2 separate regions of the Homo sapiens genome follow, and region 1 is linked to region 2. The links come from fine-mapping of genetic effects on gene expression. Tissue or cell type: thyroid. Region 2 holds a variant in brackets; the other region holds the start of a gene. All regions are shown on one strand. Distances are between the middles of the regions.

Region 1 (4,116 bases), 51 kb after region 2:
ATGGAGAAACAGGTTTATAGAGGTTACACCCAAAGGGCATGCAATTAGTTAAATGGTAAAGCTGGAATTGGGATCCAGGTCTGTAAGACTCTAGAGAGTATGTTCTTAATTGCTAATTTACACTATCTTCCAAGATGCAGACTACCTACCAGTCTGAGGACTCCAGCATGTCACCTCATTGGTGCCACTAGCCTGAATGAAATCAGATCACACAGGCACCAAGGAAAACAGAACCCTCTCAAAGGAAAAATGACAATGCTATATAAAACTGCCAATTTAGATAATCAGTTCAAAAAACATTTTGTGATCACTAATTTATTCTGGTCTAGGAATTATGGTAGGTGCTGGAGTACAAAGATGAATAAGACAATCAAGCGGGAGATAGACATATACACAGATCATTTCAGTATAGCATGGCCAGTGGTAAGGTACTGAGGAGCAGGCATGGGGTGCTATGGGAGCACAGGCTGCTATGAGAGCATGCACAGGCCCTTTCTGCATATGGGGAGGATTCCTGAAGGAGATGATTCTTAAGCCGAATAATGCAGGATTGAAGGGGAAGAATGTAGGGATGGGAATTACTAGCACAGAAATACGAACAAACATGGTTTAAGCGGAGATCTATGAGCAGTTTGGTATTATTGGGAAACAGGAGGCAGGCAGTGGTGGAAGAAGGGACTGCAGAGGAAGACAGAGATCAGATAAGGAAGGGCCCTGAAATGGCCTGTGCAAGGACTTGGTCTTAACCCAGATGGCAGTGGAAAGCTGACAAAGGGTTTTAGGCAGGGGCAAGTTTGGACAGATACACATTTTAGAAAGCTCATTGGCGGCAATGTGCAGAATGAATGGAGGGGGTATGTTATAGGGAGTTATTTTTAGCTCTTTATGCATGGACTTGCACTCAGTCACACACACACAATAGTTAATATCTGAATATGTATGCTTAGCATCTGAATATGTATGTTGAACATCAATTGAGCATACAAAGATTAATGGAGAGAATGTTTTAATTGGCGGCCATGTCAATTGCCTTTTCAACTTTTCCTCCTCCACTTTGAAATATAATATTTCCTTCATACTTAATCCTAGGAAATTTGGTATAAGCAAGTTGTTTGCCGAGAAGGGAGGAAAAGAGGAAAAGGAACAGAGTGGCAGAGTGTTCTGAGTCGTCATTTTTCTGGGGATTAGTGTGGTGTCCATGGGAGGCAGATTTTGCATTTTCGAAGCTCTCATATAATTATTTTCACAATTGTATTCCCCTCCAACACTTGTGAGGAGATTTATAACTTTCTTATTTTTTTCATATTTATCTATATTATTTTAGAACACCAAATTTCTAGAAATACTTCTGAGATGAGTAAGACCAATCTCCAGCTTATGTGGGAAGATACTACCATAAAGAAATTAAGAATCTGAACCTGGGCTGGACGCGGTGGCTCACGCCTATAATCCCAGCACTTTGGGAGGCCGAGGGGGGCAGATCGTTTGAGTCCAGGAATTGAAGACCAGCCTGGGAAACATGGTGAAACCCCATCTCTACTAAAAATACAAAAATTAGCTGGGTGTGGTGGTGCATGCCTGTAATCCCAGCTACTTGGGAGGCTGAGGCACGAGAATCGCTGGAACCCAGGAGGCAGAGGTTGCAGTGAGCCGAGATCGTGCCACACACTCCAGCCTGGGCGACAGAGCGAGACCCTGTCTCAAAAAAAAAAAAAAAAAAAAAAAAAAAAAAAAATCAGAACCTGTTCCTTGGGGGTAAAGAGGATGCTTGGACTAGCAAGGGGTATGATACTAGATGGTGGGCAGCTGGGACTCCTACATTTGGAAGGCACTGATTGACAAGAGAGACTGGGAAATCACCTCTCCCATTTGAAGAGATGGGGAAATTAGGGAGGTCAGGCACCCTAGTGTCCACTGGGAGTATTAAGTTCCTCTGCTGTGAAAAAAGCTTTTGGGGGGATTTGACTCCCGAGGGGCTCCAAATGGATGTGGCTTGTAAGAAAGGTCCCTGGTTATAAGAGTGAAGTGTGTAGGGGTGCGGGTCTGGCTGTGGGTGTTAGGGCGATGATGAGAGGGCCGGGCTGCTGGCTGCGGGTCTGGCTGAGCGGGCCGGGGGCCTCTCACCTTTGCGGGCCTTGTCTCCCGGGATGTTCTGGGCCCGCAGCCGTTGGTCGAGGATGTAAAGCATCTCCCCGCCCAAGTTCAAGAAGAGCAGCGGTAGCGTCCGCACCGACATGGTGCTGGAAACGAGCTGGACTGGTGAAGAGCCCCGGGGTTCGGTAGCCAGTGGCCTGAAGGCCAGGCCGCAGCGTCCCAATAGTCCGGTTGCTGGGGCAACGCCGTGACGGGAAGAGCGAGCCAATCAGAAGGCGGTTTGGTGGGAGGTGCCCTGAAGACGGGAGCTAATTGGTCTGGGTGGTGGACCGTCCCGGGGGGATTGGTCCGAGCCAGAGGCCGGCGCGGCGTTGGGCGCGGCTGGGGAGCTGTGCTTCTGAGAGTAGGTTTCCCTCGAAAGGGCGAGGGCCGGGCCAGGGCTGGGGGTGGTCTCGACACAGCCAGCCCGGCGCTTGGGACCCCGGCCGCTGGCGCGGGGCCTCAGGTTCCTATAACAGAGGAAAGCCCAGGCAGAACGGCATTAGAGCAGGCTCGGGTCAGACGGACCTGGGTTGGAATCACGGCTCGTGATTTCTTGCTGTGTGACTTCGGGCAGGGTTTGAGCCTTGGCTTCCTCTTACGTAACATGGAGCTGGCACTCACATCACAGGGCGGCTGAGAGGAATCAGTCAGATCATGGAAAGGCCCCGAAAGCACTCAATAAAAATGGTAACTGACTTTTCTTTTAGACGAGGGAAGGATCAGAAGTCCTGAGTCGTTTGCATCGCCTCCCAAAAGTTTACTTGAAGTGAAGCCCCTCCTGGTTTCATACTCCATGAAGCAAACCAGTCCCGTCCGTCCCCGTGTGTCCAGTTCCCAGAGGATGCGCCTGGGGGCTCTGGGAAGTTCCCTCCTCGACGCTGTTCCGAAGGCCTCCCAACCATTTCTTTTTTCTTTTTTTTTTTTTTTTGAGACGGATTTTGCCCTTGTCGCTCAGGCTGGAGTGCAGTGGCGCCATCTCGGCTCATTGCAACTTCCGCCTTCAGGGTTCAAGCGATTCTCCTGCCTCAGCCTCCCGAGTAGCTGGGATTACAGGCGCCCGCCACCATGCCCGGCTAATTTTTGTATTTTTAGTAGAGACGGGGTTTCACCATGTTGGCCAGGCTGGTCTGGAACTCCTGACCTCAGGTGATCTGCCCGCCTGGGCCTCCCAAAGTGCTGAGATTACAGGCGTGAGCTATCACGCCCGGCCCCAACCATTTCTCTTTGAGGGCAGCGACTCCCTTCCTTACCTCCATCTTAAGCTCCAGGATTACTTTTTGCCATCTGCTGTATATTTTTACTCTGATGAACAACCATTTCTGTAAATTTCAGTACTTCCAAAACCTACTAATTATCTTTCCCTCCAGCTACTCAAACTTGAAACTTGGGCCTTGGCTTCCAAATCTGTTTCCCAGGGTCTTTTATCAGTCATCATATTATGCTTTTTCCTCCAACACCTTTCTTACATTCATCCCTTCATTTGTTTTTCTGTCTGCATTGCTATGTTCCTCTGTATCACTGTTCTTTTCTCTCTTCTACCTTGCACTGGCTGCTAAGCTAAATGTCAGAAGACATCACTTTTTTTTTTTTGAGATGGAGTTTCACTCTTGTCGCGCAGGCTGGTGTGCAATGGCACGATCTCGGCTTACTGCAACCTCCGCCTCCTGGTTTCAAGCGATTCTTCTGCCTCAGCCTCCTGAGTAAGCTGGGATTACAGGCATGGACCAGGGCACCATGCCCGGCTAATTTTGTATTTTTAGTAGAGATGGGGTTTCACCATGTTGGCCAGGCTGGTCTCGAACTCCTGACCTCAGGTGATCTGCCCGCCTCGGCCTCCCAAAGTGTTGGGATTACAGGCATGAGCCACTGCGCCCGGCCAGCATCACTGTCAACATGACACATCCCTTCAGTGGTTTCCTACTCTTTGCCAGATCACAGTCTAGATGCCTTGGCATGGCATTCCAGGCTCTCCACAGGCTC
Region 2 (4,255 bases):
TTGCCACCTCCTAGGAGGGCGATCACTTAGCAAACCACTTAGCTTCTCCAAGCTAGCTAAGCTACCGGTAAAACGGGATGAGCACCGCTTACTCAGAGCAGCGGGAGCGGGTCTGGGGAAAGGAGCTATACTCGGTAAATGGGGAAGAAAACGCTTCCTGGGCTCCGGCACCTCCTTCCGGAGGTCCTGGCATCCCCCGCATTCCGCCCCGGGGCTCCCTGCACCGCCGACCCGGACCCACCACGCGACATTCCTTCCGCTTTCCCCGTCTGGGTCGCCGCCGAAGCTAGCGGGCGCCTGGACTGGCTGCCTCCCGCCGGCTGCAGCAGGACGGAGAAACCATGCCGGCGACCGGGCCGCTCTGTCCTCCGGGCGCAGAGTGCGTCAGTGCTCTGCAAGTCACCGCGTCACGGAGAAACTACAATCCCCAGAATGCTTCGCGGCGCGGGGCTCGTGCTCCGCAAATCCCGGCCTGCGTCATTGGAGTCTCTTTCACTAGAGTCGTTCATTCATTCCGCACGCATTCATTGAACCGGCGACCTGGGCCAGGCTCCTTCCCAGGCTCCGGCATGGAGCAGTGACCAAGATCAAGTGGCTCCCTGAGCTGATGGCGCTGCAGGGGAGAGAGTCTTAAGAAAACAAAGAAGAAAAATAGGGAAAAATTTCTTCAGAAGATTAAAGGTGTGATGTGATGGTGACAAGGTGGTCTTTTATTGGATTGTCAGGGGTGCCCTGAGAAGGTGACATTTGAGTTGAGATTAGTGACATGAAGCCAAGCTTGTGAAAACTATGGGAGGAGCATTGCAATTAGCGGGAACAGTTTGTTAAGTAAAATTTATAGGAGGCAGGGCCGGGTGCAGAGGCCCACACCTGTAATCCCAGCACTTTGGAGGACAAGGCGGAAGGATCACTGGAGCCCAGGAGTTCGAGACCAGTCTGGGCAACAATGGGGAGACCCTGTCTCTACAAAAAATAGAAAAAATTAGCCCACCGTGGTGGCGTACACCTCTGGTCCCACCTACTTGGGAGGCTGAGGCAGGAGAATTGCTTGAATCCAGGAAGTGGAGGCTGCAGTGAGCTCAGAAAGTAACACTTCATTCCAGCCTGGGCAACAGAGCAAGACTCCGTCTCAAAAAAAAAAAAAAATTGGAGGCCATTGGTTTGAACAGGGCTCCTGCACCAAGCCCAACAGAACCAAAATGGAGTCACTCATGCTAAAGTTCTACATCACCAAGTGGAAACTAAGTTGTTTATCTGATATTCCGATAAATCAGAAGAGTGAGAGATAGCTAGATCTCCAAACCATCCTGTTTTAGCTGGCAGGATAAGGAAGTCCCCTCTGCTTTAGCCTTCAAAGTTACAAGGAAAGTAACTTTGAAACAACCAATCTTTTTGTTTTCTGTTTCTGCTTTCCTCAGCCCTTTTCTGGCTGTAAAACCAATCTCCTCTGCTCAGCTCATTTGAACACTCATTCCATTTTATAGAATGAAGTGTTGCCCGATTCTAGAGTTGCAAATAAAAGTCAGATTTAACAAATTTGGCAAAAAAAAGTCAAATCACCAATTAAAAGTTAAATTTTTTCTTTTCACAGTTCATGCAAAGAACCTGGGGGAAATGACCTTGACAATTTAGGAACACAGGAAAGGCCAGGGAAGCTGGGGAGAGTGGTATAACAAGAGGCCAGAGAGGAAGCAGGAACCAGAGCATATAGGGCTTTGTGAGCCAAGGTAAGGAGTTTAGATTTCATGGTTAGGAGTGCAGCCTCCGGATACAGTGCCTAGGTTCAAATCTACTCCTGGCTAATTGTGACTTTGGGCAAGTTAGTATCTTCTCTGTGCCTCAGTCTTCTCATCTAGTACTAGAAGTGCTATGACAGGCTATTGAAAGGGAGCGAAGTGATTTGATTTACTTGTAGAGACAGGTTCTCACCCTGTCATCCAGGCTGGAGTGCAGTGGTGTGATCATAGCTCACTGCAGCCTCAACTACCTGGGCTCAAGTGATCCTCCTACCCAAGCCTCAAGAATAGCTGGGACTACAGGCACACGCCACTGTGCCCCACCTGATTTACATTTTTTAAAAGTCACTCTGTATAGCCTTGGAAAAATTACTTTCTTCCTCAGCCTCAATTTGCTTGTTATGAAAACAAAAAATTAGGCCTTTCTCAGAGAACTGTAAGATTTAAGTGACCTTCATTAATGTGTGAAAGCATCTGGCACAGAGAAGAAGCTCAGTAAATTAGGCTTCTTGGCTGGGGGTGGTGGCTCACACCTGTAATCCCAACACTTTGGGAGGCCAAGGCAAGAGGACTGTTTAAGCTCAGGAGTTTGAGACCAGCCTGGGCAACATAGTGAGACCCCATCTCTAAATTTTTTTTTGTTTTTGAGATGGAGTTTCACTCTTGTTGCCCAGGCTGGAGTGCAATGGCCTGATCT[C/T]GGCTTACAACCTCCGCCTCCCGGGTTGAAGCAATTCTCCTGCCTCAGCCTCCCAAGTAGCTGGGATTACAGGTGTGCACCACCACACCCGGCTAATTTTTGTATTTTTAGTAGTGACGGGGTTTCTCCATGTCGGTCAGGCTGGTGTCGAACTCCCTACCTCAGGTGATCTGCCCACCTCGGCCTCCCAAAGTGCTGGGATTACAGGCGTGAGCCACCGAGCCCGGCCAAAAATGTTTTAAGAAATTAGCTGGGTGTGGCCGGGCGCGGTGGCTCACGCCTGTAATCCCAGCACTTTGGGAGGCCGAGGCGGGCGGATCACGAGGTCAGGAGATGGAGACCATCCTGGCTAACATGGTGAAACCCTGTCTCTACTAAAAATACAAAAAATTAGCTGGACGTGGCGGCGGGCGTCTGTAGTCCCAGCTACTCGGGAGGCTGAGGCAGGAGAATGGCGTGAACCTGGGAGGCCGAGCTTGCAGTGAGCTGAGATCGCGCCACTGCACTCCGGCCTGGGCGACAGAGCGAGACTCCGTCTCAAAAAAAAAAAAAAAATTTAGCTGGGTGTAATGGGTGCACCTATAGTCCCAGCTGTCACAAGAACCTTAGGGTGTCACTCTGCCATCTGGAAACCTCTGTGGCTAGCAGCGCCTGTGCTTGACTTTTGCTTGTGCCTGCTGGGCTCGTTCTGCCTGCTCAGTCTGGCAGGCTGGGCTCAGCTTGCACTACGGGCTCGGATCCCACGCCTGCCAAAGGCGTGCCAGGTGTGGAGCAGTGAGGGATGTGTGAGCGAGTGAGCACAGGGTCCGACCACTGCACACAGCCAGATAGGCCGGCTGCTGCAGCGGGTGGGCAGCTCCAAGGGCCAGCACTGGCAGCTCCAGGCGCCGGCACAGGCTTTGGCTCTGTGCAAGGCTGCGGCTGGACCAGACATACCGTAAGTGGCTTCTGCTGTGGGCACCAGCATCTGGACAAGGGGAACACAGTGGTGGCCGAAAGCTCAGAGACACCAGGAACCACAGAGCCACAAAGAGGGTGTTACAGTGTGTCACAGCCCTGGCTTGTGGAGCCCGGAGGTCTGGGCCCCAAGAAGGGCTGCAGCTCTTCACCACACGAGGAGCAGGGGCGGGGCATCTTGGGGGGCGGGGGCGTGTTTCAGTCCATATGTGTTACAGCTCTTTCAGTCCTACCGCTCAGTGCTGCCCTGCTCTGGCCCGTGGTTCCTGGGCTGGCTAGGCCCAGCCACCGCTTCCTGTCATGTGGCACAGCTACCCGCTGGTGGAGGGTGGGCCCCCGGAAGGGTCACCACTCTTCACTCCTGCAGTCTGGGAGTGTGTCACCACCCGCAGCTCAGCGAGCTGGCCAGGAATATGTTATACTCCTTTTACTCCCGCTGTTTGGCAGGTCCCAAGTTCTTGTTTCGCATCCAGGAAGAATGAGGTTATGTGGATAACTGGAGGGTAAGCAAGCTGGAGGGAGCTTTATTGAGTGATAGAACAGCTCTCGGGAGACCTGAAGTGGGTGGCTCCTTTCCGCAAGCAGGTCCTGTGGAGTGTCTGAGACTGGCTGAGTCTGGGGTTTTCATGTGCGAAGAATGGAGGAAGTGCATGCTGGTTGGCCCATGGGTGGCCATGGGTGGGCCTGGAAAAAGTACCATCCAATTGGCTGGAAGGCATCAATGAAGTTCTTACTCCTGTCCTGGGTTCCACCTGGAACTGGCAGCCCCACCCCCAGGCTTCAGGCCACCCCTGGCTTGAAGGTGGGGCTTCACTGGGCATCTGCCCCTTCTGCCTAGGAACCTGATTGCCTCCTGGCACTATTA

The links. PIP is the estimated chance that this variant, and not a neighbour inherited with it, causes the effect.
Region 1: it holds the start of OSCP1, and the variant in region 2 is fine-mapped to the expression of OSCP1 in thyroid (GTEx, PIP 0.98).

Annotation. Positions count from the first base shown.
Region 1 is chr1:36,448,134-36,452,249 of GRCh38, forward strand. OSCP1 (organic solute carrier partner 1) reads right to left here and starts at 2,318. Exons shown (of 10, transcript NM_145047.5): 1 at 2,125-2,318. The coding sequence starts at 2,236. LOC107984940 (a long non-coding RNA gene) reads left to right here. Exons shown (of 3, transcript XR_001737976.2): 3 at 1,325-1,432. RefSeq lists a silencer at 2,444-2,713.
Region 2 is chr1:36,397,526-36,401,780 of GRCh38, forward strand. It overlaps LSM10 (LSM10, U7 small nuclear RNA associated), which reads right to left and starts at 383. Exons shown (of 2, transcript NM_032881.3): 1 at 242-383. It overlaps LOC124904013 (a long non-coding RNA gene), which reads left to right and starts at 3,738. Exons shown (of 2, transcript XR_007065797.1): 1 at 3,738-3,893. RefSeq lists enhancers at 1-240, 241-952, 2,670-3,266, 3,267-3,862, 3,844-3,933. The variant C/T (reference allele first, on the strand shown) is at 2,434.